Regions from separate parts of the Homo sapiens genome. Here region 1 is linked to region 2. A link means that fine-mapping ties the variant in region 2 to the expression of a gene that starts in the linked region. Tissue or cell type: regulatory T cells. Region 2 holds a variant in brackets; the other region holds the start of a gene. All regions are shown on one strand. Distances are between the middles of the regions.

Region 1 (2,756 bases), 110 kb after region 2:
AAAAATGTTCCCCATTCAAGTGCATTTTAATTCATGTCTTTCCTGGGTAGAGCAGAGGGCTGTGCATGTTGTTTTCTGCATCACCCAGACAGGGACACTTCGGTGAAGTTTTCTCCCCCACGAGGCTGAAATGGGATCACACTTTCCAAGCCCCCTCTTCGCTCCCCTCCGCCCCCCAAAAACGCAAGCACAAAGCCAGCCTGGCTGGGGCCGGCGTGGGCTCGGCGGCGTCTCCGGGTGACTCGGGCGCCGCCCCTCCGCCCCTCCGCCCCGGCCGGCGTCCCCGAGGAGGCGGCTGTTTTCCTTGGCCCGCGGCGGGGCTGGGTGGGGACGGCCGGGGAGGCGTGCGCGGCCGCGGGTGGGACGCCGGCGCCGCTCCCGCTCCAGGGCATGATTCTGGAGCTACACCCGAGCAACTCTGAAGTCGCGGCTTTTCCCCCAACTACCACTCGACACGGCTTCCCTTCCCCTGTGGCCACCTAGGGGGAAAAAACGAGAAAAAGCAAACCACCACCCACCTCCCCACGATTCCCCCGCCCCTTCCTGAGGCGGGTCGGGGACCTCGAGCTCCCGAGGAGAGCGGCCCCAATATGGACTTTCTCAAAGGTGCTAGGAGCCCCGGGGCGAGACAAAACCGGGGGCCTTACCCTTCCCGCCCGCTCGGGCCCGGCGGCCGAAGCGCGGCGGCGAGCTGAAGCGGAGACGCTGGCCGGGCGCCGGGCCCGGCCGGGACGCGCTAGGCCGCAGGCTCGGTTAATATTCATGAGCGGCCCCAGGCGCCCCTCCTCCAAGGCTGGCCGGCCGGACCCCAGCGCCCACCGCCGGCCTTTGTGCCCTTCCCTCCGCCCCGCCGCCCGCCCTTGCTCCGCACACGCGGGCGCGGCCCCTCCGCCCCCGCCGGGCGCCCGCCGCGGGCTCCCTCCGGCCCCGAGCCAGCGCCCGGCCGGGTGGCCTGTGGCGGGAAGGGAGAGAGCCCGCGGCAAGCCGGGCACTCCACGGCCCGCGAGCGCAGCGCCCTCTCGGCTGAGACGGAAAAGAAACCAGACACGCACCAGAGGAAGCGGGACGAGTGGATCCGCACGGGGCTGGCCGGCTCCGGGACAGCGCGCCCCGCCCGCCCGCCCGGCGTGAGCCGGACCCCGCAGCCGGACGATCCCGCGCTGCCCGCCGCCGCCGCCGCCGCCGCCGCCGCGCTCCGAGGCCGCCGCCCCCGGCCGGCCGCTCCCAGGCACCGCCGCGACCTGCCCCGGCCGGCCCCGGGCTCTCGGCCGCCGCAGGAGGGCGTGGGGCGGGGCGGCGGCCGCCGGACTCTCCCCTCGCCTCGCCGGGCCGGGCCGGGGCCCAGCTCCGGCGCCCGCGAACGCCAAGTGACAGAAGCGCCTCGCTCCGTGGCCGCGCGGAGCTGTTTCCCGGGGGCGGATTTCTCGCTTCTTCCTCCCTGGATCCACCTCCTCCCACTCCACCTCCTTCCCCTCCCCTCCCCAGGGGAGGCTCTGGGGCTGAATATTTTCTGTCTTGAATAACACGGGACCGGGGAACCGACGCTGGAGAAGGGGGATTAGCCGGAGGCCGGAGCGGGGTGCTCGCCTGCCCCCTCCCCGTGGGTCGCGGGACCTACAAGCCCTCGCCCCCCAGCACCCCAAAACCAGGCACACAACGCTCCCCGCCCCTGCAGTCTCCCAAGCGCTGAACGGCAGCGTCCAGGGATGGGCTTGCTCCCGGGAAAGGAGACCTGGTGGTAGACGTCTGGGGTGGAGAGGGGGACAAGCCTATAACAGCGACATCTGCAGACTCCAGGGATCAAAGGTCCTAGATTGGGGGACAGGGCTTGGCAAATTGTGCCCCCACCCCTTTTTTGCAGCGGGAAGGCAATGAAGCTGCGACGAGACGTGGGACTTCCAGATAAGGGAGTGTCCCCTCACGCCTCACAGCAAAAATCTCTTCCTGTGGTGGGAAGGGGGAAGTTAGCCAAGCGTTGCTCATTCAGTTCTTTCCCTTTTATAAATTCTGCAGAGCGGCTGAGCGAATTTGGCGCGGCTAGCGGAACTGTGGAGAGGCGGCTGCGCTTCTCTGTCCGCCACACTCCAGGTCACAGCGGCTCCGGAGCCGCGGCACAACCGCCACCCTCCCCACCCAATTCCCGGGCCTTGTCACAGACCCCGGCAGCTCGCTCCGCCCCGCCGTGCCTCACAACATCTCCCGCTGCAAATTACCCAATCGGGAGACGCGACGAGAGAACGCGAACCAATCAGGGGCTGGTAAATCAGGCTTCCCTCCGCCCTCTTCCCCGCCCCCGGGTGAAGGCCACCGCCCCCTCGGCCTCTCCTTCCCACCCCGCCCCGCTCCGGGGAGGTGGCTCCCCGGCTCCGAGCCTCGCGGGGCTGGAGGGGGAGTTGCTCGCAGTCAGAGGCAGCGTTTGTCACCTTGTCACCCTCATCCTCGCCCCCTCCCATACACACTCCCCTCCCCTTCTCGGTGCTCCTGCTGGTGCTGTTGAGGGTCATTTTTATCCTCACTGCGGCCGGGGACTGCCAGCTATTGTGTCTGATCAGCTGCCACCGCTGTCCAGAGGGAAAAAAAGAAGAACAAAACCTAGAAACTGTGGAGTCCTCTTACCTTTTCCTTCTTTCTTTCTACACTCTCCCCTGTAGACTTAGAAACATCCCTTCTCCTTCCCCGCCCGCCCACCACCTGAGGTCCTGTTTCTTTATGGGGGACAGGGGAGCGGGGACAAAAAACACTCCCTGCAGCTGGAG
Region 2 (2,756 bases):
AATCAGTAAATTCTAACTGTGTTTAGCTTATTTTCTGTTTTTACAACTTTCTTTAAAAGCAGCTCTTTACATTTTAGGAAGAGAAGACATTTTGAAAATTTCTCTATGCACCACTTTTTACTAAGTATACGACAGTTTACTATTATGTCAGTAAGAATGCAGTAATTCTTTTTCCAAAAGCAAGAAGATAACTGAAGTTTTAAAAATTCAATGAGGATAACAATTTAATTTCACTAAAACTTGTAGTATTTAAAACTGATTTTGATATTTAAATTGCACATGTTTAACAAAGTTTCTTCAAATGATACATCATATAAAGCAGCCTGGTTTTATAGAGTCTGCTGATCCATAATTCTGTTACAGATTAATGAATACTGATGTGAAGAGGAATACACTGTATTCTTCAAAAAGTATCTGACTCATGCAGTATGAATACATCTTTAATTATACTGGGATAAATCTTTGAGGAGAATGATTTTATGCCTTGCAAAACTAAAGAGAGTGAAATTCAAATTGTGCATGGATTAAGCATTATTGCAAAGCATTAAATACAATTTTCAAATTTTGTGTCCCTGGATTTCCTGATGGTATTCATTCAATCTCTTCCAACTTACTATATTTTGGAGAACATTTCTGAAACACACTGGATTAAAATAATCAGTTTTAGATATGTCTGCAAAAACAGGTGGGAGGATAGATACTCACCTGTTCTAAAGGAGGACTGAATGGAGAAGGCGTGGGAGAAGAGACTAACATTGGGCTTACTCATTTCAGTATTGTTGCATTCTTTATAATAAATTCCTTTTACTGGTATGTTAAAAGGAGAAAAGGAAAAGCTAAACATACTTTTAAAGTAAACACAATTACATTACCTCACATTTACAGACTATACTAATCCAATTCTTGATTCCCTTTGAAAATATAAAGACTTTTCTACCGGTTTAAAAATACTGTGTTCGTTAGGAATAATCCAAATTCAAAAACTCTACTTTTCACATACACTTTAATTATTACCAATGTGCATATTATGTAAAAACAAGAATAATTCCAATTTATCTTATTTTCCAATGTAGAAAAATACATATTATTTAGTTGACCAAACGGAAAACAAAAATTTTTCATCTCATATACAAATATATTCAAAAGCATCATGCTGTCACACTTTCAAATGACTTCTAAATTTTTAAATAAAATATTCTGTTAGATGAAAATCAATCATCTTTATCCTAGGCATATCACATACTACATTAAGACATTAAATAATGCATTCAAAACATACTTATGAACTACTGGGGTTACAGATTTATTAAGTGGCATAAACATTCGTGTTAAACTACGTAATCAAAGAACTGACTTAAGAAACGAGGTCTTGGACAGGCGTGGTGCCCACGCCTGTGATCTCAGCACTTTGGGAGGCCAAGACGGGTGGATCACCTGAGGTCAGGAGTTCGAGACCAGCCTGGCCAACATGGCAAAACCCTGTCTCTACCAAAAATACAAAAATTAGCTGGGCATGGTGGTGCGCGCCTGTAGTCCCAGCTACTCGGGAAGCTGAGGCAGGAGAATCGCTTGAACCCGGGAGGCGGAGCTGCAGTAAGCTGAGATCATGCCACTGCACTCCAGCCTGGACAACAGAGGACTCTGTCA[CA/C]AAAAAAAAAAAAAAAAGTCTTCATTTACTTTCTTCACTAAAAGACCCAGAGCTCTTTATAATAAAAAGAACGGTGAAGGACACCTAAGTTGCTACACATCAAAATTCAATGTGGCTACTGTTCCTTAACATGTAAAAAAAAATACAGGCCTATATATCCAAAAATTTTGCTTTGGAAAACAATGTTTTCCAAAAGTAAATAATCCTCACAGATAAAATCTACTCCATTATTCAATTTGGATTTTTTCCAAATGGAGAGTATTTCAAATTATGTTTCTATTTATTATTCGTATCTGAATAGGAAACTTTCACTGTTTATTGCTTATCAATTAATATTTTAGAAAAACATCTTAAAGATTTCATATTGTGAAAATTCATACATGTTACATAATAATTTCTCAGATATCAAAGCATGAAAGAAGGGAAGCCCTCCTATATGAAGAGTTCTTATAAGTAAGGACCACTAAAATCACAGTGGAAAGAGCGAAACACATGAAAAGACAACTCATGGAAGAAATACAAAAGCCAAATAAAAATGTAAAAAATACTGGTAAAAACCTATTACTGAAATGATCAAATAAAAGCAAGATGAAACAGTGATTTATAACTGTTTTTTCATCTCATAAACTGACAAGTATTTTCACTTTAAGATGTTCTCATCCTATTTGTTCCTCTTCGTGTTCCGCAAGATAACTACAGAGAGTGTCTATGCTTGTCTATCCCAGAGGTTCAGTGGGATTCACAGGAGCGGCTGGCCCTCCTGTGGGCGGGCATGATCTAGGCCTGACCAACCATAGGGCCTATCCCTCTCAATCCACAGAGACTGGCCAAGGGGCGAGAACCACGCAGTCAGGGCCCCTTATATTAATAGTATCTCTAGGATTCAATACATGGACAGTGAGAAAACTATGGACTTTCTCTTCTTATCCTTGGAGAACAAAAACTGTAGAAATCAGTAAACTGTTGAGTTGTCACCAACGGCCACCTTTTCTACTATGTGGAGAAAAAGAATCTGAGAATGAAGAAAGCAAAACGAAAAAAGACTCACAGGCCAGGCGCGGTGGCTCATGCCTGTAATCCTAGCAGTTTGGGAGGCCAAGGTGGGATG

Direction of the effects. Alleles are on the strand shown, and positions count from the first base shown. SD is a standard deviation of normalised expression in the study named.
For the expression in regulatory T cells of the gene that starts at base 1,378 in region 1, allele C in region 2 goes with a higher level than allele CA (large effect, 0.91 SD a copy in Bossini-Castillo 2019).

What was found. PIP is the estimated chance that this variant, and not a neighbour inherited with it, causes the effect.
Region 1: it holds the start of ARHGAP21, and the variant in region 2 is fine-mapped to the expression of ARHGAP21 in regulatory T cells (Bossini-Castillo 2019, PIP 0.95).

The regions. Positions count from the first base shown.
Region 1 is chr10:24,722,510-24,725,265 of GRCh38, forward strand. It overlaps ARHGAP21 (Rho GTPase activating protein 21), which reads right to left and starts at 1,378. Exons shown (of 26, transcript NM_020824.4): 1 at 1,053-1,378. RefSeq lists silencers at 158-467, 528-887, 908-987, 1,078-1,147, 1,178-1,367 and 1 more and an enhancer at 911-1,821.
Region 2 is chr10:24,608,725-24,611,480 of GRCh38, forward strand. The region is part of intron 9 of ARHGAP21 (Rho GTPase activating protein 21); the gene reads right to left. Among named protein-coding and RNA genes, the nearest start is that of ARHGAP21, 110 kb to the right of the region's middle. The variant CA/C (reference allele first, on the strand shown) is at 1,648.